4 linked regions of the Homo sapiens genome follow. The protein of the gene in region 1 purifies or fractionates together with the protein of each later gene. This does not show direct contact. Each region holds a gene or a part of one and is shown on either strand. Other genes may lie near its edges. The genes, in order: G6PD, PAK2, HARS1 and CAPN1.

Region 1 (5,986 bases):
GACCCTCCCCTTGGGCCTCTGGCGGGAGTGCTGGATCTTGGACTCTGGCCTCCAGAACTGGGAGAATCAGCCTATGTTGAGAGCTGCCCAGTGTGTGGCCCTTCTGCCTGGAAGGGGTGGCTGGGCCTGGCTGTGCATCACTGTGGACTGTCCCCTCTCCCTTGGCCTCTGACATCAGTCACAAAACCCATCCCCTCTCCTTCCTAAATACTTCTGTGGACTGGCAGTGTTGCTGGAAGTCATCTTGGGTGGGGCAGGGACATGGACAGTAAGAGCGGAAGGTGACCCCACATCCTTGCACCTCAAGCTGGTCTCACAATGACAATATGCGTGGAGCGGAGGAGGACTCAGGAGGTGTCTCTGACACCAAACATGGTCATGGCTGGACATGGGGTCAGAACCAGAAGTGAGGAGGCTCCTCAGTGGCCACAGAGGAAGCACCCGGGTGACTTGGGGAGTGGGACAAGGAAGTGGGTCCTCAGGGAAGCAAATGACAAGGGGACAGGAGGGGCTGTTTGCGGATTTAATGGCAGGGCATTGAGGTTGGGAGGGGTCCCAGCTGCTGCGTCTGCTTTTCTTATAGCAGAGAGGCTGCCTACGGGTGGCACGGGGTGGCCATGGAGTGCAGAGTTGGTGGGACAGGGGACATCCAGGGGGCTCGAGATGTTGCTGGTGACAAGGAATGTCAAGTGGCACTGAGGCTGGCGGGCAAGGCCACAGGCAGATTCTCTCACGTGGGTGCTCGCCCCTTTCCTCCCCCTCGTCCCTCCCTCCCACCCTGGCCCCACTCAGGAGTGAGACCCAGTGGCCAATAAGCTCTGGGACAGACGAATGGGCGCCCTCCTCCTTCCTTCTGTTGGGCTGGAGTGAGTGGAGGAGGTGACTCAGCTCCTGGGCTCAGGCAGGGTCTGGAGGGGCCAGGATGGTCTCGAGTGCTTGGCAGCTGAGGAATGTAGCTGGGCTCGGGTAGTAGCAGCAGCGAGGGGCGGGCCAGGGTGGCCAGAGCCCGGGGCCAGGAATGTGCAGCTGAGGTCAATGGTCCCGGAGTCCTCCCGACTCGGGGTCGGGCGGCGGGAAGGAGGGTGGCCGTGGCGGGGGTGGAGGTGGGTGCCCAGGGCTCAGAGCTTGTGGGGGTTCACCCACTTGTAGGTGCCCTCATACTGGAAACCCACTCTCTTCATCAGCTCGTCTGCCTCCGTGGGGCCTCGGCTGGAGAGTGACGGGTGGAGGAGAGGCATGAGGTAGCTCCACCCTCACCCCGCCCCTGCCCGCTGGGCTCTGTCCCCAGCCCCCACCCTTTCCTCACCTGCCATAAATATAGGGGATGGGCTTGGGCTTCTCCAGCTCAATCTGGTGCAGCAGTGGGGTGAAAATACGCCAGGCCTCACGGAGCTCGTCGCTGAGGGGACATGGTATGGCTTGGGAGGCCGGTGGCACACAGGGAGGGAGGGCAAAGGCCACCCCATAGCCCACAGGTATGCAGGGGCCGGCAGCTGGGCCTCACCTGCGCACGAAGTGCATCTGGCTCCCGCAGAAGACGTCCAGGATGAGGCGCTCATAGGCGTCAGGGAGCTTCACGTTCTGTGAGGGAGAGAGTGTCTTGCTGATGCCACTGCCTGCCACCATGTGGAGTCCCCCGGGCCCAGGCCGCCCACCCTCCACACTGCTCCTTCTCTGTAGGGCACCTTGTATCTGTTGCCGTAGGTCAGGTCCAGCTCCGACTCCTCGGGGTTGAAGAACATGCCCGGCTTCTTGGTCATCATCTTGGTGTACACGGCCTCGTTGGGCTGCACGCGGATCACCAGCTCGTTGCGCTTGCACTGCTGGTGGAAGATGTCGCCGGCCACATCATGGAACTGCAGCCTCACCTCGGCCTTGCGCTCGTTCAGGGCCTTGCCGCAGCGCAGGATGAAGGGCACCCCTACGTGGCGGAAAGGGCAGCCTCAGCACCAGCTCTCTCAGGGTGTGGACCAGTGCGTGAGTGTCTCAGTGGGAGCTCCAGTGCCCGCACACAGGGCATGCCCAGTTCTGCCTTGCTGGGCCTCGAAGGCATCACCTACCATCCCACCTCTCATTCTCCACATAGAGGACGACGGCTGCAAAAGTGGCGGTGGTGGACCCGCGGGGCACCGTGGGGTCGTCCAGGTACCCTTTGGTGGCCTCGCCCTCTCCATCGGGGTTCCCCACGTACTGGCCCAGGACCACATTGTTGGCCTGCACCTCTGAGATGCATTTCAACACCTTGACCTGAGAGAAAGCCAAGGGAGAGAATGGGCTCCTTGGGTGTTGAGTTGGGGTGCAGGGATGACTGTGGCCACAGATGTGCAGCCCTCAGGGCAGGAGGAGGCCCCTGCTTGGCTCTGCTCACCCTGCCAGAGGCCCAGCTCAGGGCCCCTCCCTGAGGACCCTCCAGGACCACCCTGGTCCATCTCGAGTCTATTCTGATGAACAAGCTGAGGCCCAGAGAGGCAATGGCCTTCCCTGGTCACATAGTGACTGTCAGGCCTGGGACATGACAACTTGGGCTTCATGACTGCCAGTCCAGGTCACCTCCGGGAGGCCACGCTGTGCTCAGAGGTGGTGACTTCTCCGGGGTTGAGGACACCTGCTCTGCATGCACACCCCAGCTCAGTGCCTCGTCACAGATGGGCCTGCGACAGGGCATGCTCCTGGGGACTGGGGTGCACCCCCTACCTTCTCATCACGGACGTCATCTGAGTTGGTGGAGGCGGGCTTCTCCATGGCCACCAGACACAGCATCTGCAGTAGGTGGTTCTGCATCACGTCCCTGGGGACGGAAGAGGCCAGAGCTCGCCTTAGCTCCCCGCCCTGTTCACCTGGTTCAAGGGCATGGGGACCCCAAACAAGGCTTCCTAGTGACAAGCTGCAAGACTCACTTCCTGATCCCCCTTGTCTTCCAGGTCCCCTTAAATCAAGGAAGGACATGGTGATGCTATCACTGAATCATAAAACCGTGGGGTGCTTGGCTGTGTAGGGGTCCAGCCCTTTCCAGCCCGGTCTGATAGCTCAGACACTTAGGTTTTGAACTGCAGGGTGAGGAGGAGCTCCCCCAAGATAGGGAAGAGTAGCCCTGCAGGGTGACTGGCTCTGCCACCCTGTGCCAGCCTCCCAGGAGAGAGGAAGAGCTCTCACCGGATGATCCCAAATTCATCGAAATAGCCCCCGCGACCCTCAGTGCCAAAGGGCTCCTTGAAGGTGAGGATAACGCAGGCGATGTTGTCCCGGTTCCAGATGGGGCCGAAGATCCTGTTGGCAAATCTGCAGGGAGGGGCAAGGTGGAGGAACTGACCTTGGGCCTCTGTGGTGCAGGGGCCACATGTGAGGGGTCACCCTTGTCTGAGTTCTGGAGGAATTCGTCCTCGGGGAGGCAGTGGGCCAGGTGAGGCTCCTGAGTACCACCCCCACCCTGGTCCCCCGGCCCAGGCTTGGCCCCACCTCAGCACCATGAGGTTCTGCACCATCTCCTTGCCCAGGTAGTGGTCGATGCGGTAGATCTGGTCCTCACGGAACAGGGAGGAGATGTGGTTGGACAGCCGGTCAGAGCTCTGCAGGTCCCTCCCGAAGGGCTTCTCCACGATGATGCGGTTCCAGCCTCTGCTGGGAGCCCGGAGCTGCGTTACCCCCTTGAACCCCTCTTCGGGGAGTGAGGATCAGAGCTGCATCATTCAGACGCCCTCCCAGGGGAGTAGAGGCCAGAACCTCCTCGCCCCCGTGGCCACCTCCCGTGCCTTGTGTTCCCAGATGACCCTCTGGCTCAACACCTTCCGGGAAGCCTTCCCACCCTGGGTGCCAGGGTGGCATTGCTGGCATGCTGCCGGGGGCCCGTTCCCCTCCTGCCTCATGCTGGGTCCCCGGTGGGTCTGAGTGGCCTGAAGGCCTGTAGGGGAGCAGGGGGAGGAGGCATCCAAGCCATGGCTTCCTCATTGGTTTTGAAAATGAGAAGAGGACCTTTGCTTTACTACCCCCGCATTCAAAACCAGCCAGAGGACAAGAGCCTCTGGCTGGGTTGGGAAACCACCCAGCGCGGGCCATGCTGCATTCGCAGAGCAAGGCTGCCACCCTGCGGCCTGGCCGGGCCTTTGGGGAAGCAGAGCGGAAAGGCGGTGTTTCGTGGAGCAACGCTGCCACCTTGTGGTCCCGCTGGGGATGGCCCCGGCACCATGGATGCTGCCCAGATCCCCGGCCCCGGACACGCTCATAGAGTGGTGGGAGCACTGCCTGGGCCAGCCTGGCAGGCGGGAAGGGAGGGCAACGGCAAGCCTTACATCTGGCTCATGCAGGACTCGTGAATGTTCTTGGTGACGGCCTCGTAGACGGTCGGGGGCAAGGCCAGGTAGAAGAGGCGGTTGGCCTGTGACCCCAGGTGGAGGGCATTCATGTGGCTGTTGAGGCGCTGGTAGGAGGCTGCATCATCGTACTGGCCAGCCACATAGGAGTTGCGGGCAAAGAAGTCCTCCAGCTTGAGCTTCTCCTCTGGGGTGGCCTGGGAGACACGGACAGACAGACACACAGACAGATGTCAGCCCCTCTCTTTGAGTCCGTGTGTGTTCTGCCCCAGGGGAGTGGAGGGTCTTCCCTGGAGGTCCAGGGAGGGTGCCCTCAGAAGTCAGTGTCCCCGTCCCACACTGGGTTCAGCCCCATCTTAGCAGCTCTGCACATCCAGAGGGAGGGAGGCCAAAGCAGGCAGCACAGACACTGCCCCAGGCTGGGACCCCTGTGCCTTAGGACAGAGGCCAGATTTCAGGATATTTTGACCTGGGAGAAATACACTGGAGAAAGCTCTCTCTCCAAAATCATGACACCCAACTATGATTGGCGGAGAAAACGCAGCAGAGCACAGCAGGAGGGGACCTGTGGGTCCTGGTCACGGGGGCTGGTAATGGGGGTCTCAAGGAAGTACGAGAGCAGGCGGGGCGGGGCAGGAGAGGAGGAGAGCATCCCGGGATGGGATGGGGGGAGGTCCCCGAAGCTGGCCATGCTGGGGGCTGGTAGAGAGGGCAGAACCAGGCTGGGGGAGGCCCTGACACCACCCACCTTGAAGAAGGGCTCACTCTGTTTGCGGATGTCAGCCACTGTGAGGCGGGAACGGGCATAGCCCACGATGAAGGTGTTTTCGGGCAGAAGGCCATCCCGGAACAGCCACCTGAGGGCAGGGCACAGCTGTAACCAGTGCGGGCAGGGCAGGACCAGGCCTGTCCCTGGCGGGAGGTCACAGGGGCAGTGGTGGGACACACTTACCAGATGGTGGGGTAGATCTTCTTCTTGGCCAGGTCACCCTGTGGCAGAGGGAACAGGTGTGTGGTTAGAAGTGGCTGGGGACACGACCTACATACATCATCCTCCACCCTTGGTGATCTGGGCACTACTCAGGATCACTACTGGGCCACAAGCATGTCTGTCTTGCCTGATATACAGACAGAAGAGCCCCGAGATTCAAGCCTGTGCCAGCCCTCCATCCCTGACCCAGAAGACATAAACGCATCTCCTGCGTTCCAGGAGAAAACCTGAAAATTCAATTCAGTAGAACCAAGGGACGACAGAAGTACCATGTAGCCACATTTGTGAGACGTGACCTCAAGTGCTTACATTAGCAAAAAAGAGTGGTTCAAAAATAAGGAGCTAAGCATTCCACTTAAGAAGTGAGAAAAAGGGCCAGATGCGGTGGCTCACACCTGTAATCCCAGCACTTTGGGAGGCTGAGGCAGGCAGATCACCTGAAGTCAGGAGTTCAAGACCAGCCAATGTGGCAAAACCCCATCTCTATTAAAAATACAAAAATTAGCCAGGTGTGGTGGCAGGCACCTGTAATCCCAGTTACTCAGGAGGCTGAGGCAGGAGAATCACTTGAATCCGGGAGGCAGAGGTTGCAGTGAGCCGAGATCGTGCCACTGCACTCCAGCCTGGGTGACAAGAGTGAGACTTCATCTCCAAAAAAAAAGTGAGAAAAAGATAGAACTGCAAGCCA
Region 2 (6,321 bases), on another chromosome or scaffold:
TCACTTGAACCCAGGAGGCAGAGGTTGCAGTGAGCCAAGATTGCACCACTGCACTCCAGCCTGGGTGACAGAGCAAGATTCCGTCTCAACAAAAAAAAACAAAACAAAAGCAATATGTATTGCATTTATAACCGAAGAAAAACCAAAGGTGAATCTGATTTCAGAAAAGTAACTTAAGGAAATGTAACATCTAAAAATAAGAGGAAAGTATCAAATCTAAATTTAAATGGGATAATGATAACCCCAGTTTAGTATTTATGGTGATTTTCTTTAAAGAAGAAAGAATCCCTTAGACTTTATGGAGTGCTCTGTGACCGTGTTGAGCTATCTTAAGTGGATCAAAGATGTTCTTCTATTTTTAGGCCTTGTACCTAATAGCAACTAATGGAACCCCAGAACTTCAGAATCCAGAGAAACTTTCCCCAATATTTCGGGATTTCTTAAATCGATGTTTGGAAATGGATGTGGAAAAAAGGGGTTCAGCCAAAGAATTATTACAGGTAAATTTAAAAATGATTTCATTTGGGGGAATAGTTGACTTTTTTGGTAACCGACAGAAAGCTTTCCTAGGGCTAATAAGTAGATTTCACTACTCATTGATCACCAGCGGTATGGCAGCTGCTGCAATTTAGGGTTTCATCCTACCATGCTGAGCAAACTACCGCAAGGACAGAAAACCAAACACTGCATGTTCCCACTCATAGGTGGGAATTGAACAATGAGAACACCTGGACACAGGAAGGGGAACATCACACACCGGGGCCTGTTGTGGGGTGGGGGGAGTGGGGAGGGATAGCATTAGGAGATATACCTAATGTAAATGATGAGTTAACAGGTGCAGCACAGCAACATGGCACATGTGTACATATGTAACAAACCTGCACGTTGTGCGCATGTACCCTAGAACTTAAAGTATTAAAAAAAAAAGTGAGGGTTTCATCTGCTGTGAATAAAATTCTGACAAAACCGTAATGTGCAGTTTGTGCATCGTATCAATCCTCAGACCTGTTTACAGTTTGTGCATCGTATCAATCCTCAGACCTGTTTACAGTTTGTGCATCGTATCAATCCTCAGACCTGTTTACAGTTTGTGCATCGTATCAATCCTCAGACCTGTTTACAGTTTGTGCATCGTATCAATCCTCAGACCTGTTTACAGTTTGTGCATCGTATCAATCCTCAGACCTGTTTACAGTTTGTGCATCGTATCAATCCTCAGACCTGTTTACAGTTTGTGCATCGTATCACTCCTCAGACCTGTTTATTGCTGTTGTGTGTATATTTGTCAAACTAAAATGATTCTGCTTTCATTCAACTCTGAAAGTAATGCGTTGATTATGTTAGTCTTATGAAGGTATTAATATGTGTTTAGTTTATTAAATTATGATCGACAAGTAGTCTTTGGGGCTTAATTGAACAAAATTATTTTGTTTCTAACCTGATGAATGGCACTTATACATTTATTTTTCCCCTTCTTTCTGGCAGCATCCTTTCCTGAAACTGGCCAAACCGTTATCTAGCTTGACACCACTGATCATGGCAGCTAAAGAAGCAATGAAGAGTAACCGTTAACATCACTGCTGTGGCCTCATACTCTTTTTTCCATTTTCTACAAGAAGCCTTTTAGTATATGAAAATTATTACTCTTTTTGGGGTTTAAAGAAATGGTCTGCATAACCTGAATGAAAGAAGCAAATGACTATTCTCTGAAGACAACCAAGAGAAAATTGCAAAAAGACAAGTATGACTTTTATATGAACCCCTTCTTTAGGGTCCAGAAGGAATTGTGGACTGAATCACTAGCCTTAGGTCTTTCAGCAAACAGCCTATCAGGGCCATTTATCATGTGTGAGATTTGCATTTTACTTTGCTGACTTTGTTGTAATAGATCCCATTCATTGTCCCCTTTGGGGTATTTCCAATACTTGAATGGCAGATTGGAGTTTTTCAGAGTATGTGTTTCATCTGCTAGTCTTTCTCTCCTTCATAGCTTTTCTTTTCCTGGACTTGCTCCTTTTGAGTTGCTTTTGCGTTTCTCATGCCTAGGCAAGTGTAATAGAAATTATGTAGCTCCTTATGTTGGCAAAGGAGCTCTATATAGTTTCACTTTGTATAAAAGTTAGGACCAGCTGTTGTTACATGTAATATTTTAGTTCAGAACTTGACCTGAAGGAAGGGAAGAAAAGTATGTGATTTTTACCTTTTTTAACAAATGTGAAAAAGTCAGTTTTAGAAATTTCGTGGTAGTAAGTTCGGCATTTGTTACATGTATAGAGAGAAGACTAATAATCTCTATTTATAACTAAATCATTGAGATAGAAAAAGATTCCCATTGACTGTAGACTTCTTCCCATTTTGTCTTCCCTTCTGCCTGTTTCCCCTTCAGGCTTGGCTCTAGGAACCAAAGTGATTTGTTGTTGTTCCAACCTGGGCTTTGTGACTTTGGTTAGTGCCACTACCTTCTTCCCTCCTTTCCCCCTTCAATTTGGAAATAAATTTCTGTATATGTTGCAATTTTAGGTTTAGGTTTGTTCTTTTTCTTTTTCATTAATCCTCTCTCACCTCACAGATACCCCCTCCCATGGCAAATAATATAATAACCAGTGAATTTTCAGGAATTTAAAAATTAGCTTTTTTCCACTTAAAGGAGAAAAATATTTGGGACTAGCAGCAGAGGCAGTAAGAGATGTGAACCTTGGTGAGCTCTGATACAGTGAGAAGAGATTATACTCATGAAAGAGAATGTTAGTGTTACAGAGAAGCAGCCGATAGCAAATCGACTGTAGAGACTTGGCGGCGGTGGCATTGCCCCAGGTCGTCAGCAGTGTGGTATTATCTATGAGAACTTGAGCGACAGAGTATTTCTTGATGAATTTATAGATCATTTGAGATGTTGAGTTACTTTAGTTTAGTTTTGTTTTGTTTTTTCAAATAAGTAGAGACTATTGTAAAAAACGAGAAAGGAAAATGAAATGTGCGTGTTGATAGCAATAATTTGTTTCTTTTAAAGATTCTAAAAGGTCTGAGACCTGTAGCATTAATTATTTGAGTGCCCTCCCTTCTCCCCTCCCCTCCCTTTTCTCTTCTCTTTTTTCCTCTCCTCTTCTTCTCCTTTATTCATTGTTTTGCTTTTGGAGTGGGTGTTGTTCAAGTATCTGTGGTTTGGTTCTGGCATTTTGTTCCCACCATCCCCTTCCCCCATTAACTTCCCCCCTGCTTGCCATCCTGCAGTAGTATAAATCATGAATAAAAAATAATTTTGCTGTTGTAGTATACATTGGAGAAACTGGCAGGTTTTATTTCCATTATTTTATTTCCACTATATCTATGATAAGATGCAATTATAAGGAGAGAAGTGACTGTTTTTTATTGATAAGGCAAGATTTTCAGAAAAATGAGTAAAATAATTAATGAAACATATTTAGAGCACTTAATGGTCTCTGTTTTCAATATAATTCTTGATTTCATTTTTCTCTGGAATATATTGGCCTTCTACAGCTATTACTGAATTATAGAAACTGGTTTATTTCTGGCAGAAAGCTGCAGTGCCACCTGAGTTCCAAATTTTACCATTCTTTGTAAACAGTTGGATGGATTATGATAAAGAAGATGCTACCAATGAAATAGAAAACCAACGAGATGAGAAGACTGTGATCCTCATGTACTCAGAGGCACTTCCCTCCTAAGTCAAAGACCATCCTCACTGACTATGTGCCAACGCCTCGTTTCAGGCTTGTGACTCAACAAAGGGCTTTTCCATTGATAGAAGCAGTTTGGGATTTGTAGTTGCGACTTCTTCGATAGTTACCTGCACGTCCATTGCTGGCAACTGACTTGTCATTAAAACCTGGCTCTTTGGTTAAGGGAGCTACGCTGTGGTTTATTCTTAAGTTACGTGGATAAACTAACCTCTAACAGAAATATACTTTGGTTAATTTTGAAATGTGTCATTTTTAAACAATCTTAAAAGTAATACAGAATTGTGATTTATTAATTTTAAAACATTCAGAACTTGTTGAAAGAAAAATTATATCTGAATCAAGATTCATGTTTTTTATTTTTATTTTTTTTGATACAGAGTCTCACTCTGTCACTCAGGCTGGAGTGCAGTGACATGATCTCAGCTCACTGCAACCTCCGCTTCCTGGGTTCAAGCAATTCTCATGCCTCAGCCTCCTGAGTAGCTGAGACCACAGGCACCCGCCACCACACCCAGCTATTTTTTTGTATTTTTAGTAGAGACAGAGTCTCACCACATTGCCCAGGCTGGTCTCCAACTCCTGAGCTCAGGCAGTCTGCCCACCTTGGCCTCCCAAAGTGCTGCAGTTACAGGCGTGAGCCACTGCACCTGGCCTCATGTTTTTTAAATAATTGCCTTTTATATTTACCCTTTTTGTCATCACTTTAGAATGAAAATTCCCATTTAAATCTGAAAGTTACCTTAATAGTCCTCTTGTGTTATTAGGACAGTATTATTATAGTACTTATTTATTTTATTTTAGATTTAAAGTTATCTTCTCTTTTTCTTTTTTCTTCTGCTGCTTTTAGGGACAATTAAAACTGGGAAACTATGAAACATGGAACATTTTATCCTACCTGAAAGTAAACGAGTAATTGTGAAGCATAAGACACTGAGGCTAATACAACTCTGTCTTCATGTGTTGACTGCCTGGCACATAGTATTCATTCTCTTCCCTTTAACATAGAAGTGTCCAGCTGCGTACAGTCTAGTAACCAGCAACTGTAAACGAACCTGTGCCTCTAACAAGCGATTCTAAACCACCTATGAGTATTTCTTTTAGGGCTCACTTAAATACATGTTTGTATATACTGTATTCTAGCCAGAATAATTTTAGATCTGATCAGGTAGTAGCTAAAATTAGAAAAAAACAAAATAGATGCTTAAAGAATTTGCATCCATTTTTGAGTCTAAATCTTTTAAAATATACTGAGATCCACATCTAGTGAAATGTCAGTGTCAAAATATTATAGATTATAGCTAAAATCCAGATTAATACTCATTTGGGGTTTTTTATAGTGGAACTTCATAGTAATACAAAAAGCAGATTGTCTTCCTGTCTCCGCTGCTCCCACAGTAGGTATTGAAACTGGTAAAATCAGTTTTTTGATAGTGTGTGTATATAAGAAAAAATAGATACACACATTCTTTTTTCTCAGTCAACACATTGATTGAACACTCTGGCAAAGATGCTGTGGTGGATGAGGTTGGAGTTCGAAAGAAGAAGCAAGCGCTGGCCTGGCCTTGAAAGAACCGAAGTCTTTCCCATTCACTTCTCTAGAAAGCTGCCAAGACAGAGGCAGAAAGAAATGGATGATAGTTCTGTCAAGCACACTTCTGTTCTCTTAGAACTTAGAAGTGTTTCTAAGAGAACAGAAGTAATAAGAGAAACAGTTACGTGTGGAATTCAACATCTTTGGTTGGAACGCATTGGCTTTTTTTTTCTTGTTTTGATAGAAATGGAATTAAGCAAAAGTAGTTTTTGTCTTTTCTGTTGTCTTCAAATTTTATGCCTTTTATTTTTAATTTAATCCCGTTCAATTATTTAATTGTTATACATTGACATTAACTGCTGTATTTTGACTTTGTTCAATAATTTTGTTCTTTCAGGGCTAGAAATAAACTTTTTAAAAAAAGTGTGCATTTTTCCCTTTCCTAAACTTTTATTCTTTCTTTTGATCAGCGTAAAAGAATATTTTAATGTCTTTTGATAGCATAAAAGAATATTTAAATGTCTTAATAGGTTTTCAAAGAACATTTAGTATTTTTAGTGATAAATGTTTTAAACCTTTTAATGGTGTTGTGCCATCATTTTGAATTTATTACAAAGCTCCAAAGTAGGAAGGTTTCTAGAAATGTGTGGGCAGTAAACATGAAGTTTTCCTTTTTTTTTTTTTTTTTTTTTTTTTTGAGACAAGTCTCACTCTTTCTTCCAGGCTGGAGTGCAGTGGCGCCATCTCAGCTCACTGCAACCTCTGCCTCCCAGGTTCAAGTGATTCTCCTGCTTCGGCCTCCTGAGTAGTTAGGGGAAGTTTTCCCTTTCTAAATCAAGTTCAGAATAATTTTCTTTATCAATGTTTCTCTATCAGACCCAGGGAAACAGTTCTGATTTGAACACACACCTTGCTGGAGTAATAAAAACCTGATCAGAATTTCTGTGTTAAGTGAACCAAGAAACCTTTTAGAGTGCAATACGTCGTAAGGCATCACTTCATTATGTGAATTAATTTGGAATCTTAGGTACCCTAACATAGGGAACAGCCACAATAATGGTTTACTATCAAAAAGCATAAAATAAGGCC
Region 3 (7,030 bases), on another chromosome or scaffold:
AAAACATGTCAGGGCTTAAATGAAATAAGAATAGCAGATGTTAATGGTTGTTGAAGCTGGGTAATGGATAAATGGTGACCTGTAATACTATTCTCTATATTGTGTCTTTGAAAATTTCCATACTATAGTGTTAAGATTATGCTAGAGAGTTAATATCCATTTTAGTATTAACAATAGAAAACTCAGTATTGTGGGGACAAGACTCTTTCAAGGGATCTTCATGGTCAAAACTATTTCTATAATAATTCTTTTGTTTTGTTTTGTTTTGTTTTGTTTTGTTTTGTTTTGTTTGAGACGGAGTCTTGCTCTGTCGCCCAGGCTGGAGTGCAGTGGCGTGATCTCAGCTCACTGCAACCTCCGCCTCCCGGGTTCAAGCGATTGTCCTGCCTCAGCCTTCCGAGTAGCTGGGACTACAGGGATGTGCCACCGCACCTAGCTAATTTTTTGTATTTTTAGTACAGATGGGGTTTCACCGTGTTGGCTGCGCTGGTCTTGAATTCCTGGCCTCAAGTGATCCTCCCACCTCGGCCTCCTAAAGTGCTGGGATTACAGGCGTGAGCCACTGCGCCTGGCCCTTCTATAATAATTCTAAGACATTATCTGCCTTTTTCGTTGTGTTAACATTTGCACTGAAGGCACAAAAGCGCTGGTGAGTAGAACTGCTGGTGCCTTAGCATACATTAAGACAGTGACACTAAACTGTACTAATAGCCAGTGTGTTCTTCACTGCCATGCACTCACAGTAAGTAAATAAATAAATTAATTAATTAATTAATTTAAAAAATTCAGTTTTACTTAACTATGTCATTGATAAAATGGTAAAACTTTGTTTGTTTTGGGGTTTCTTTGGAGACAGAATCTCACTCTGTTGCCCAGGCTGGAGTTCAGTGTCACGATCTTGGCTCACTGCAGCCTCCACTTCCCGGGTTCAAGCAATTATTGTGCCTCAGCCTCCTGAGTATCTGGGATTACAGGCGGGTACCACCACATGCAGCTAATTTTTTGTATTTTTACAGAAATACAAAAAACATACAAGAAACCTACAACATGTTTCACCATGTTGCCCAGGCTGGTTTGGAACTCTTGAGCTCAGGCAATCTGCCCACCTTGGCCTCCCAAAGTGCTAGGCTGAGCCACCATGCCTGGCCAAAAACTTACTGATTTTATTGAATCTTGACCCTTGAGGACCCTATTTTTAAATATTTGCTATGACAAAATGGGAAGTACACATAAAGCACTTCTGCACGCCAAGGTAGGGAAAATGCTTATGCCATTGTTCAAGTTGCAAGCTGATCTAGCTACTTTTTTCATAGAACATCTTGTTTTATTTGAATTAACAACTGAAAGATAAATTATGGTTTTTCAAACTTAAATATTTGGCAGACATTTTTACAACAATAAACGAAGTGAGCCTCGTCACCTCAAGGAAAACATCTGACAGTACTTGTAGGCAGTGAAAAAATTCAAGTATTCAGGTGAAAGTTAGAATTTTAGAAAACTTAGTCAGGGCATGGTGGCTCAAGCCTATAATCCCAGCACTTTGGGAGACCAAGGCGGGCGGATCACCTGAGGTCGGGAGTTTGAGACCAACCTGACCAACATAGAGAAACCCCATCTCTACTAAAAATTAGCTGGGCGTGGTGGCGCATGCTTGTAATGCCAGCTACTAGGGAAGCTAAGGCACAAGAATCGCTTGAACCTGGGAAGCAGAGGTTGTGGTGAGCCGAGATCGCGTCATTGCACTCCAGCCTAGGCAACGAGTGAAACTACATCTCAAAAAAAAAAAAAAAAGAATTTTAGAAAACTTGCATCTTCCATCATAAGCTTGACAGCTTCCCAATAATTAAAGAGTTTTCTACTGGGTGTGGTGGCTTACGCCTGTAATCCCAGCACTTTGAGAGACCAAGGTGGGCGGATCACCTGAGGTCGGGAGTTTGAGACCAGCCTAGCCAACATGGTGAAACGCTGTCTCTACTAAAAATAAAAATTTAGCCAGGTATGGTAGCTCACGTCTGTAATCCCAGCTCCTTGGGAGGCTGAGGCAGGAGAATCGTTTGAACCTGGGAGGTGGAGGTTGCAGTGAGCCGAGAACACGCCACTGTACTCCAGCCTGGGTGACAGAGTGAGACTCCATCTCAAAAACAAACAAACAAATAAAAACAGGCCAGGCAAGGTGGCTCATGCCTGTAATCCAAGCACTTTGGGAAGCAGAGGCAAGTGGATCATGAGGTCAGGAGATCAAGACCATCCTGGCTAACATGGTGGAACCCCGTCTCTACTAAAAATACAAAAAATTTGCCGGGCGTGGTGGCACGCGCCTGTATGTAGTCCCAGTTACTCAGGAGGCTGAGGCAGGAGAATTATTTGAACCTGGGAGGTGGAGGTTGCAGTGAGCCGAGATCACACCACTGCACTTCAGCCTGGGTGACAGAGCGAGACTCCATCTCAAAAAAAAAAAAAAAAGACTTTCTTGATGAGATCTGAAGTGATGTAAATAAATAAGGCTTCCTGATATTGTATAATGAAATGTATCAACATTTGAAAGACCTGTTATGAAATCATGCACAGGCAAAGGATCCATTCATTCAAAGTACAAAATACAGTAGTGGATTTTTTTTTGTAGGAAAATATACGTAACATAAAATTTACCATTTTAATGATTTTTTTTTTTTTTTGAGACAGAGTCTCACTCTGTCACCAGGCTGGAGTGCAGTGGCATGACCTTGGCTCACTGCAGCCTCCACCTCCTGGGTTCAAGCAATTCTCCTGCCTCAGCGTCCCAGGTAGCTGGGACTACAGGTGTGTGCCACCACGCCCAGCTAATTTTTGTATTTTTTAGTAGAGATGGGGTTTCACCATGTTGGCCAGGATAGTCTCGATCTCTTGACCCCGTGATCCACCTGCCTTGGCCTCCCAAAGTGCTGGGATTACAGGTGTGAGCCACCACGCCCAGCCCATTTTAATGATTTTTAAGTGTACAGTTCAGTAACATGAAGTACATTCATACTCATAACCATCACCATTATCCACCTCCAGAATTTTTTCATCATCCCCAATTGAAACTCTGTACCCATTAAACAATAACTCCCCACTTCACCCTCCCTCCAGCCCCTGGTAACTGCTATCCTACTTTCTACTTTCTGTCTCTATGGATTTGACTATTCTAGGTACTAGATAAGTGAGAGACTAATTGTTCTTTTTTTTTTTTTTTAAGTTCATTGATCTAGCTTTCAAATTCCACATTGCAACCAATCTTTAAGAAACAACCACTTGTTGGATTCTGATGTAGTACCAAAGAAAAATATCCACAGTTAGCTGAAAAGTTTGTTAAAATACTCTTCCTTTTACAACTACATATCTGTGTAAGGTTAGATTTTCGTTATATACTTCAACCAGCACGACATATCACGACAGATTGAATGCAAAAATCACATATGAGAATCCTGCTGTCTTCTATTCAGTCAGACATTAAAGATTTGCAAAGATGTAAATCAGTGCCACTCTTCTCACTAAATTGTTTTGGAAAACAGTTACCTTTTTCTAAAATATTATTTGCGTTAACATATAATAGATATATTATTTGTGTTAACATATGTTATTTGTTAAATGAATAAATATTTTAAAATTTTTGCCGTTCTAATTCTAATACAGTAAATATTGATAGGTATAATCCACTTTGGGGTCTTGAATACATAGTAAGAGTGTAAAGAGGTCCTGAAACCAAAGACTTTGGAGTAGGGTATAAAAGCCCAGATTGGAAGCTCTGACCTGGAAGGACAACACAGTTCTAGTCCTGACTGCCACGAACATGCTGAATGGCCTTAAGAAATGACTTAACTTCTCAACATCCTGTACTTCATCTGTAAAATTTATCTGCCTAGCCTATGTCATAGAGTTGTTACCAGAAACAAATTAGAGAACAAACAGTTGTAACTAAGATTTAAAAGAAAAGTTATATTGGGAGAGAAACGTTGCTTATAAAATTTGGAATTCAATTAGTTGAGCCAGTTTGAGTTGGTTATATTGCCTATAATCATGTAGGTATTTTTTTGTTGTTATTATTTTTGTTTGTTTGGTTGGGTTTGTTTTTGTTTTTGTTTTTGTTTTGACAGAGTCTTGCTCTGTCTCCCAGGCTGGAGTGCAGTGGCACTATCTCAGCTCACTGCAAGCTCCACCTGCCGGGTTCACGCCATTCTCCTGCCTCAGCCTCCCAAGTAGCTGGGACTACAGGCACCTGCCACCACGCCCGGCTAATTTTTTTGTATTTTTAGTAGAGACGGGGTTTCACAGTGTTCGCCAGGATGGTCTTGATCTCCTGACTTCGTGATCCGCCCGCCTCGGCCTCCCCAAGTGCTGGCATTACAGGTGTGAGCCACCGCGCCCGGCTGGTTGGTTTGTTTTGTTTTTGAGACAGAGTCTCGCTCTGTCTCTCAGTCTGGAGTGCAGTGGTGCAATCTTGGCTCACTGCAACCTCCGCCTCCCAGGTTCAAGTGATTCTCCCTGCCTTGAGCCTCCTGAGTAGCTGGGATTACAGGCACCTGCCACCACCATTTGTTTGTTTTATTGAGACAGTCTCACTCTGTTGCCCAGGCTGGAGTGCAGTGGCACAATCTCGGCTCACTGCAACCTCCACCTCCCAGGTTCAAGGATCCTCATGCATCAGCCTCCCAAGTAGCTGGGACTACAAGGGGCGTGTCGTCGCACCCGGCTAATTTCTGTATTTTTAGTAGAGACGAGGTTTCACCATGTTGGCCAGGCTGGTCTCGAACCCCTGACCTCAGGCAATCCATCTGCCTTGGCCTCCCGAAGTGCTGGGATTACAGGCGTGAGCCACTGTGCCTGGCCTCAGGTAGGTGTTTGTTATTAGGCCAGGAAATGTTCTGTTATCTGAGAGAGAGTGTTTAGAAAAATGGCTTAAAGAAAAGAGTTCTAAGAATTTTAGAAAATAGACCCAAACTTAAAAGGGAATGGAGTTTGGAAGGCAGATAGCAAATGGGTGTGGGAATTAATAGGGAATTATTTGTACTTGTTTTAAAACTCAGTGGCCTGTAGGAAAATCTGTTTAGAGCAGGATTTGCTTTTTCATTATTGAGGTCATCCTTTTATATTTCCAAAACATATTGTTCTTGGTTTTCAAACCTCATTTCTGGTTCTCTGGCTGATTTCAACTCCAAGGGCACAAGAGACTATAGTCCCCGGCAGATGGCAGTTCGCGAGAAGGTGTTTGACGTAATCATCCGTTGCTTCAAGCGCCACGGTGCAGAAGTCATTGATACACCTGTATTTGAACTAAAGGTGAGGAATGGGCAAGAAGAAACTACATGGTAGATGAGTGGGCATTTGAATAACAAAGAAGATGACAACAAGAGAGTGAGGGTCCAAAGGGCCCACTCCTGTTGTGGACACAGACCAGTCTTTGCTCCAATAAGAAGGGGGACAAGAATGGCTTGGAGGGAGAGGCCCTGTCTTTTATTATCTTGGTTGTGGCCAGCAGATTCCAAAAGAGAGCCATTCTTTGGAATGGTAATTGTTCTGGGTCCTCTCTACATTGTATTGCGTGGCATCTGTACTTGGAATGTTTTCTAGATTCATGCAAACCATACGTACATAAATATGCAACCACTCTCCTATTGATGGACTCTGAAGTTGTTAGTAGTTCTTTGCTATTAAAAACTAGATTGCAACTGGGCACATCTGTAGTTCCTGCTTCTCAGGAGGCTGAAGCAGAAAGATCACTGGATCCGAGGAGTTCAAGGCTGTAGTGTGCTATGATGGTGCCTGTGAATAGCCACCATACTCCAGTCTGGGCAATGTAGCAAGCCCCTGTCTCTAAAACAAACCAGCCAACCCAGATTGCATTACTACCTGCTTCAAACCCAGTGATTCCCACTGCACTTATAGTACAACCCAAACTCTTTACTCAGGTTTACAGAGCCCTAGGTGATCTGGCCACTGCCTCTCCTACCTCATCTCATGCTATTTTTCCTCTTGCCCACTATGCTACTCTGGTCTTCTTCCTACTCTTGGAACATAGTCAGTGTGTTTGTACCTCCACACCTTTGTTCTTGCTCTTCCCCTTTCCTGAACTCCCTTTCCTTAGCTCTTTGCATGATTTATTTCAGATTATACTAGAGACTGCAGATTTTAATTCCTTTTTAAAAAAAAAAAATACAAATAGAGACAGAGGTCTTGCTATGTTGCCCAGGCTGCTTGCGAACGAACCCCTGGCCTCAAGTGGTCCTCCTTCCTCAGCCTCCCAAAGTGCTGACATTACAGGCATGAGCCACCACGTCCAGCCAGCCAGATTTTAATTTCAGAGCTCAGCTAAAATGCCACTCCTCAAGTAATCTTCTCCAACTACCTTCTTTAAAGTAGCTGTTCTCTCTCTTATCACAATGAGCTAGTTTATTGCCTTTAGGCTATAAAACTGTCTGAAATTATCTGTTGTTTCCTTCATCAATGTCTCTTTTTATTGATATTTAATTGTACATATTTATGAGACTGTTTTTACCTACTGTATTAGTTTGCTAGGGCTACCATAACAAAGTACCATAGACTAGGTAGTCTAAACAACAGAAATTTATTTTCTCACAGTTCCAGAGGCTGGAAGTTGACATAACATGTTGGCAGGCCTAGTTCTTTCTGAAGGCCATAAGGAAGGATCTGTTCCAGGCCTCTCTCCATGGCTTGTAGATGGCCATCATCTCCCTTTGTTTTTTTTTTAATTGAGACAGAGTCTCGCTCTGTTGCCTGGGCTGGAGTGCAGTGGCACCATCTCATCTCACTGCAACTCCACCTCCCAGGTTCAAGCGATTCTCCTGCCTCAGTCTCCTAAGTAGCTGGGATTACAACACGTGTGCCACCACACCTGGCTAATTTTTCTATTTTTAGTAGAGACGAGGTTTCACCATGTTGACCAGGTTGGTGGTCTTGAATTCCTGGCCTCCAGTGATTCGCCCACCCCAGCCTCCCAAAGTGCTGGAATTACAGGCATGAGCCACCGCGCCCAGCCTCCCTTTGTCTTTACATC
Region 4 (7,030 bases), on another chromosome or scaffold:
AGAGGCGATAACTTTTCCAGGATCATGTAGCTAGTATGTCTCGAGCATACATGTACATATCAAGTATACACATGTCTATATGTGGTATGCATGTATTAGTATACAGCAAATATGCAGGTATCTAGTATACATTGTACAGGCAAAGGAAAGCATCCCCTTAGCCCTCTGAAGGTTCACTGAAAAATCAACTCACAAAAGGAGGTTAGTAGGAGAAATGGCATACAAATTGATTAGCCTGCAGCGTGGGGTCGGGAACCACAGAGTGTTCACCCCAGCCCCACAATGGGTACAGAAGCCTATATACCATCCTGAGGTTACAGGAAGAATGGGGGCTCGAACATGGCCAAAACCAGTTTCTGGTGGTAAATCAGGTTATAGTGGCAAGACAGACTATGGAAGGGGGAGAAAAGGGGGCCTGGGTAGCAAAGGCAGTCTTGTTATGTAGATGAAACCTCACAGGTAGCAGCCCTCAGAGGGAATAGATGGTAATTGTTTCGTTCAGACCTTTAAAGGGTGTCAGGCTCTCAGTCTGACAAGGGAAGGCCTTAGAGAAAGCCTGGCTACATCAATGCAGATTTTCTCTACAGATGCAAATCTCCCCCACAAAAGACAGTATTACAGGGCTACTTCTGTTTGCAGACCCTCTGAACAGCTATCTCAAAATATGTTGAAGAAGTATATTTCAGGGTGAAATACTTTGATTTCCTTCAATACCTAGATACATGTATCTAGTATATCTGTAGCATACATGTATCTAGAGGTACACATGCATCTAGTATGTATCTAGTATATGTGATTTAGTATACATGCATCTACTATGTATCTGGTATACCTGACCTAGTATACATCTAGTATGTATCTAATTTACATGATTTAGTCTATGTGTATCTAGTATGTATCTGGGATGTAGAATCCTGCATCTAGGAAGGTAGGGGTAAGGATGGAGCTCAGGTCCGGGGGATTCCAAAGCAGGTACTCACCGTGCCCCTCCCCCACAGCTGTGGCAATTTGGGGAGTGGGTGGACGTGGTCGTGGATGACCTGCTGCCCATCAAGGACGGGAAGCTAGTGTTCGTGCACTCTGCCGAAGGCAACGAGTTCTGGAGCGCCCTGCTTGAGAAGGCCTATGCCAAGTGAGTAGCGGCTGAGGGGGCAACTCCAGCTTCCAGCTCCCCCTAGGGGTGGGGGCTCATGACTGTCTTCTCAGAGGGTCCTGCTTGATGCCAGAGTGCTGACCTGGAGCTGCCCACAGGGTAAATGGCAGCTACGAGGCCCTGTCAGGGGGCAGCACCTCAGAGGGCTTTGAGGACTTCACAGGCGGGGTTACCGAGTGGTACGAGTTGCGCAAGGCTCCCAGTGACCTCTACCAGATCATCCTCAAGGCGCTGGAGCGGGGCTCCCTGCTGGGCTGCTCCATAGACGTGAGTGTGCCCGGCCCCGATGCTTTGGTACCCTGGAACCCTGGTATCCTGACCTGTCACATTTTCTAAAATCCCCACCCAGGCTCCGCTCCAGACCCTGTCCTGCACTTAAGCTTCATCTCTGGATGCATACCCTGCCTCATCCATCACTTCCACCCCCCATGCCTGGTGTCGCTCCTGTCCTCACCTACCCACTCCTCCCCCAAAACTTCACACCTCAGCTCTTTCCTGTGCTTGTTTTCCCGTCTACCATGCTGTTTCCCTCATTCCTGTCATCTCAATCCATGCCATCCTCTGTCCAGTTCACCAGCCTCAGATTTCATCTCCTGGTCTCAGTTCCCACCCATCCCTAGCCTCAATCCCACACTCACTCCATTCCCACCCTTCCCTGCTCCTCTGTTCCCACACTCAACTCCGCTCCCCAGTCCTCAACGCCAGACTTGACCCCAGTATCACTGCCATCCGCAGCTCTAACCCCAGCTCCCATTCCCATTTCTAACTGACTCTTCTGTCCTCACGTCCTTCTCCGTGAGGCCCACTGAGGGCTGTGTGGCTCTGGTGGGCTGTGCACGGCTGTGTGTGTGCACATGCATGTTCGCACAGGTTCTGGTCAGCCCTGGCCAGTAGCAGTGTCAGCGGAGTGCCTGGGCTCCCCTGTCCCAGTGGCAGCATTGGTGGGGTACCCAGGCTACCCCTCTCCAAAAGAGCAGCATCTATATGTGGGGGTGTCTATAGGTGGGATCGGGGTCCCTGCTTGCTTCTCCTAGCAACTGTTGTATGTGCAAGTGGGAACGTCCAAGACCCTGAGTGCTGGGGGCTCATCTGATAGGGCGGGGGGACCTAGCCACTGACCACAGTGTGTGCCTCTTTCTGCAGATCTCCAGCGTTCTAGACATGGAGGCCATCACTTTCAAGAAGTTGGTGAAGGGCCATGCCTACTCTGTGACCGGGGCCAAGCAGGTACTGCCCTGGGTGGGGCCTTCCCTGAAGGGCGGTTCCTGCCCCCTGGCCTGTCCTTGCCTCTCTGGCACCTGACCAGGGCTGTGGAAGGTGCTGGCTCCTCCTTTCCCCTCCTGCAGCACCTTATCTCTCTTCTGGGGACACCCATCTGAGATGCCTATCATGTCCTGCCCTGACTGACTGTAGTTCATGTGTGCAGCTGCCTGCCTGGGCTGTGAATTCCAAGAGGACAGGCTTCATCTGGGTGCTGAGCAGGGCTTGGAGAGGATGAGGGTATGGGAGGCGGAGTGTTAAAGTGCGTGCATGGGCCAGGTGCACTGGCTCACACCTGTAATCCCAACACTTTGGGAGGCTGAGGTGGGCAGATCACCTGAGGTCAGGAGTTCGAGACCAGCCTGGCCAACATGGTGAAACTCTGTCTCTACTAAAAATACAAAAACTACCTGGGTGTGGTGGCAGGTGCCTGTAATTCCAGCTATTTGGGAGGCTGAGGCAAGAGAATTGAATTGCTTGAACCCAGGAGGCGGAGGTTGCAGTGAGCTGAGATCGCACCACTGCACTCCAGCCTGGGTGACAGAGCAAGACTCTGTCTCAAAAAAGAAAAAAAAAAAAAGTGCCTGCTGGAAGCTAGCACTGACAGGAGCTCTGGCAAATAGGTGAACTACCGAGGCCAGGTGGTGAGCCTGATCCGGATGCGGAACCCCTGGGGCGAGGTGGAGTGGACGGGAGCCTGGAGCGACAGGTGAGGGGCAGTGGGCACTGTCTGGAGTGCCTTGGGGAAACTGTTAGGTGCCCCGACATTTCTGCTCGGGACTCTACCAGGCCAGGCTGGACTCAGGATTGAGCAGAGGGGCCCATCTTCGCGCGACTGGGTCTGGGGGACTGCTCTGACAAAGCTCAGGCCGTGCGGGCCCCTGTGCCCAGCCGTCGGGTGTGTGCAGGGCATCAGACTGGCCCTGATGAGACCACCCCCTAGAAGCGGAACCTTGGCGCTTGACCTTGAGGAGGCCACCTGGGCTGGGCCGGGGGAAGACAGGCCAGGGTAGACAGGCCCCAGGGACAGAGGCCAGGCAGGTCAGTGCCCACCAGCCCTGGCAGAGCCCTGCTCCTCACAGCTCCTCAGAGTGGAACAACGTGGACCCATATGAACGGGACCAGCTCCGGGTCAAGATGGAGGACGGGGAGTTCTGGTGAGCGCCCCCTCCCCTTCTACCCCACCTCTCCACCCCTACACATCAGCTCTGTGCCCTGACGGGCTGTGCCTCACCTGTGTACCTCCCACCTCAGGATGTCATTCCGAGACTTCATGCGGGAGTTCACCCGCCTGGAGATCTGCAACCTCACACCCGACGCCCTCAAGAGCCGGACCATCCGCAAATGGAACACCACACTCTACGAAGGCACCTGGCGGCGGGGGAGCACCGCGGGGGGCTGCCGAAACTACCCAGGTGCACAGGGGCGGGCTCTGGGTCTTGCTGCTTCCTGGCTTAGGGGCTCCAGAAGGCACGTCATCTTACTGAGCCTCCGTTTCCTCACTTGCAAGATATAGGCTGATCTCTTGAATTTGCTTTGAGGAGTAAAATATTAAATGTCCTAGTAAATTTTAAAGAGGCATGCTTGACTCACCGTCTTGGGGCCTGAGCCCAGGGTGCTCATGAGGGGCAAAGATCTTGTGGCCATCCAGCCACCTGCCTGTCACTCCTTTCCTGGGCCCTTCCCTCCTGCCTTCGCTTTTTTTTTTCTGAGACAGAGTCTCACTCTGTTGCCCAGGCTGGAGTGCAGTAGCGTGGCCTTGGCTGACTACAACCTCCATCTCCCGGATTCAAGCAATTCTCCTGCCTTAGCCTCCCGAGTAGCTGGGATTACAGGCACCTACCATACCCAGCTAATTTTTGTATTTTTAGTAGAGGCAGGGTTTCTCCATGTTGGCCAGGCTGGTCTCGATCTCCTGACCTCAGGTGATCCGACCACCTTGGCCTCCCAAAGTGCTGGGATTACAGGCGTGCGCCACTGTGCCAGGTCCCTTCTTGCCTTCTCTTGCCACCTTTCCCTGGGCTTCTAGATCCATGTGGCTGATGTGGGCCACAGCCTGGCCTCTCAGTTCCTTGTCACTCTCACTGCAGCACGCTTTTTCTCTACCTTAGCTCAGCCCCCACCATGAGGGCACCAGAGCTGCCTTGTCTTGCAAACACCCGCTCTCTGACCTCCACCTTCGACTCTTTCCACTCCCTTAGTCTTCAACCCTTCGACCAAGCCAGTCCGTTGAACCCATCACTTGCGTACCATCCTGCCTCTCCCATCTTGCCTTCTCTCCTTACCTAGGTTAGAGCTATCATTTTAATCTTGTTCCTACAAACACTTTCAGTTCCCTGGCCCCTGTCTCCCATCATCTGGCACAAAACCCATCTCCACTGGCTTGGGAACCATTGAGTGTGGCAGGAGAGAAATCACATAACCGATGCCATATTTTCCCTGTAAATTCTTAGCCACAAATCTCAAATGAGCATTTTCCATAATCCCCAGCAATTCCACTACTGGTTAGTAACATTTCCACTCTCACCTCGATATCTCCCCACTGTTACTCTCACCTTCGGGCCTGGCCTTGCACTTCACTGAAAAGATAGACTTCATCCTGCAGGACACCTTGTGTTCCCACCTCCAAATCCCCCAGCCTTCTGCACCTGTGCCTGTGTCCTCATCGCCTCCCCACCTGCGACAGTGGCAGAACAGTCCCTGTTCATGGGGACCCCCACGTCTGCTCCAGATCCCATTCTCCCTCACCTCTGAAAGCATTTGCTCCTTCATCTGTCACCTCTCTCTCCAGTGTCATTACGGAGAGTCCTCTGTCTTAACACAAAGCAACCCTCTCGACCCCACTTCCCTGTTCATTTCTCCGCCCTCCTTCAAAGCACAATTTATCAGGAATTACCATACTCCCTATTTCCTTTCTCACTTCTGCTTCATTGCTTAACCCTTCCCAGTCCAGCTTCATCCCTACCATGCTGCTAAAACCACCCTCTCAAAGGTCACTTAAGCTTTGGCCTTGCCAGATCCGCCGCTGCTCTGTCCTCCTGTGCTGCATCCTCAGCACGGCTCCCTGCCCTCTGTTTTGAAGCATTCTTCTCCCTTGTAGGGATCCAATTTCAGTCTTTCCCCAAATAGATAACCACCGTTCCCTGTACCATTTATTGAGAAATACATCATCTCGTCTCTCCCCAGCAGCACTAGCGCCCTCAAGTAGTCCTGAGGTATGTGTTGGTCTGTTTCTGGACTCACCATTCTGTCCCTGGGTCTATCCCTCTGCCGATAACACATTGAATCCATTACTACAGATGTGTAAGTCCTGCTGTTGGACAGGGCAAATTCCTTCTTCAAGAGTCTCTTAGCTGTTTTTTTTGTTGTTGGTTTTTTTTGTTTTTGTTTTTGTTTTTTGAGACGGAGTCTTGCTCTGTTGCCCAGGCTGGAGTGCAGTGGCGCGATCTCGGCTCACTGCAACCTCTGCCTCCTGGGTTCAGATGATGCTTCTGCCTCAACCTCCTGAGTAGCTGTGATTACAGGTGCCCGCCACCACATCCAGCTAATGTTTGTATTTTTAGTAGAGACGGGGTTTCACCATGTTGGCCAGGCTGGTTTCAAACTCAAGTGATCCACCTGGCTTAGCCTCCCAAATTGCTGGGATTACAGGCGTGAGCCACTGCATCTGTCTTAGCTGTTCTTGACCTCTGTTTTTCCAAATGAATTTTAGAATCAGTTTACCAAGTCTTTTGAAAAACCATTTTGAGATTTTAATTTGGAATTACATGAAACCTATAGACCAATTTGGGGAGACTTGACATTTTTATAATTTTAAGTCTTATCCAAGGATATGGTGTATCTCTTCATTTATTTTGGCCTTTAATGTCTTTCAATAGAATGTTGTATTTTTTATCATAAAGAATTTATACATCTCTTGAGATTTAATGCTAGGTACACTATAATTTTGTTTCTATTATAAATAGTATGTTCTTTAAAATTACATCTCCCAAGTGATCTTGTTGCTCATACGATAACATGCATTTGACCTTTTAGATGTAGTTTTTATATCCAGCAAATTTTTTAAAACTAATTAATCTTACTGATTCATCTGTATGTATTTTTTGGCACGATCTTAGCTCACTACAACTTCTGCTTCCCTGGTTCAAGTGATTCTCGTGCCTCAGCTTCCCGAGTAGCTGGGATTACAGGCGTGCGGCACCACACCTGGCTAATTTTTGTATTTTTATTAGAGACAGGGTTTCACCATGTTGGCCAGGGTGGTCTCGAACTCCTGACCTCAGGTGATCTGCCTGCCTTGGCCTCCCAAAGTGCTGGGATTACAGTGAGCCACTGCGTCCAGCCCTTTTTGGTTTTCTAATTAGGAATATAGCATCTGCAAATAATGACAGATTGTTTCTTCTTTTCTAATTCTTACAACTTTTGTTACTTTTTCTTGTCTAATATGCTGCCTAGAACTGTAGAGCTTCCTGCTCTTGTTCCTCCCTTTTTTTTATTCTTATTTTTAGGAGCAACCCTATTAACTAAGCCTCACTCTTAAAGGGGAAGTTTTCACCACTAAGTACCTTTCTAATCTAGGTTTTTTGTGGATACCTTTTATCAGACTAATGAAGTTTA

What was found.
Region 2: the proteins of G6PD (region 1) and PAK2 fractionate together in Homo sapiens (co-fractionation; 2 studies listed by BioGRID). This does not show direct contact.
Region 3: the proteins of G6PD (region 1) and HARS1 fractionate together in Homo sapiens (co-fractionation; 3 studies listed by BioGRID). This does not show direct contact.
Region 4: the proteins of G6PD (region 1) and CAPN1 fractionate together in Homo sapiens (co-fractionation; 2 studies listed by BioGRID). This does not show direct contact.

What each region holds. Positions count from the first base shown.
Region 1 is NC_000023.11:154,530,882-154,536,867, forward strand, and holds the end of G6PD (glucose-6-phosphate 1-dehydrogenase), read right to left. Parts: intron 5,298-5,986; coding exon 5,260-5,297; intron 5,165-5,259; coding exon 5,056-5,164; intron 4,505-5,055; coding exon 4,287-4,504; intron 3,616-4,286; coding exon 3,457-3,615; intron 3,280-3,456; coding exon 3,154-3,279; intron 2,789-3,153; coding exon 2,695-2,788; intron 2,248-2,694; coding exon 2,061-2,247; intron 1,922-2,060; coding exon 1,686-1,921; intron 1,582-1,685; coding exon 1,505-1,581; intron 1,400-1,504; coding exon 1,307-1,399; intron 1,210-1,306; coding exon 1,119-1,209; 3' UTR 510-1,118; downstream 1-509. UniProt on the Homo sapiens protein: Catalyzes the rate-limiting step of the oxidative pentose-phosphate pathway, which represents a route for the dissimilation of carbohydrates besides glycolysis.
Region 2 is NC_000003.12:196,826,834-196,833,154, forward strand, and holds the end of PAK2 (serine/threonine-protein kinase PAK 2), read left to right. Parts: intron 1-362; coding exon 363-500; intron 501-1,485; coding exon 1,486-1,572; 3' UTR 1,573-5,814; downstream 5,815-6,321. UniProt on the Homo sapiens protein: Serine/threonine protein kinase that plays a role in a variety of different signaling pathways including cytoskeleton regulation, cell motility, cell cycle progression, apoptosis or proliferation.
Region 3 is NC_000005.10:140,681,365-140,688,394, reverse strand, and holds part of HARS1 (histidine--tRNA ligase, cytoplasmic), read left to right. Parts: intron 1-5,175; coding exon 5,176-5,295; intron 5,296-7,030. UniProt on the Homo sapiens protein: Catalyzes the ATP-dependent ligation of histidine to the 3'-end of its cognate tRNA, via the formation of an aminoacyl-adenylate intermediate (His-AMP). Plays a role in axon guidance.
Region 4 is NC_000011.10:65,184,919-65,191,948, forward strand, and holds part of CAPN1 (calpain-1 catalytic subunit), read left to right. Parts: intron 1-998; coding exon 999-1,132; intron 1,133-1,251; coding exon 1,252-1,420; intron 1,421-2,296; coding exon 2,297-2,380; intron 2,381-3,036; coding exon 3,037-3,122; intron 3,123-3,495; coding exon 3,496-3,570; intron 3,571-3,667; coding exon 3,668-3,828; intron 3,829-7,030. UniProt on the Homo sapiens protein: Calcium-regulated non-lysosomal thiol-protease which catalyzes limited proteolysis of substrates involved in cytoskeletal remodeling and signal transduction. Proteolytically cleaves CTBP1 at 'Asn-375', 'Gly-387' and 'His-409'.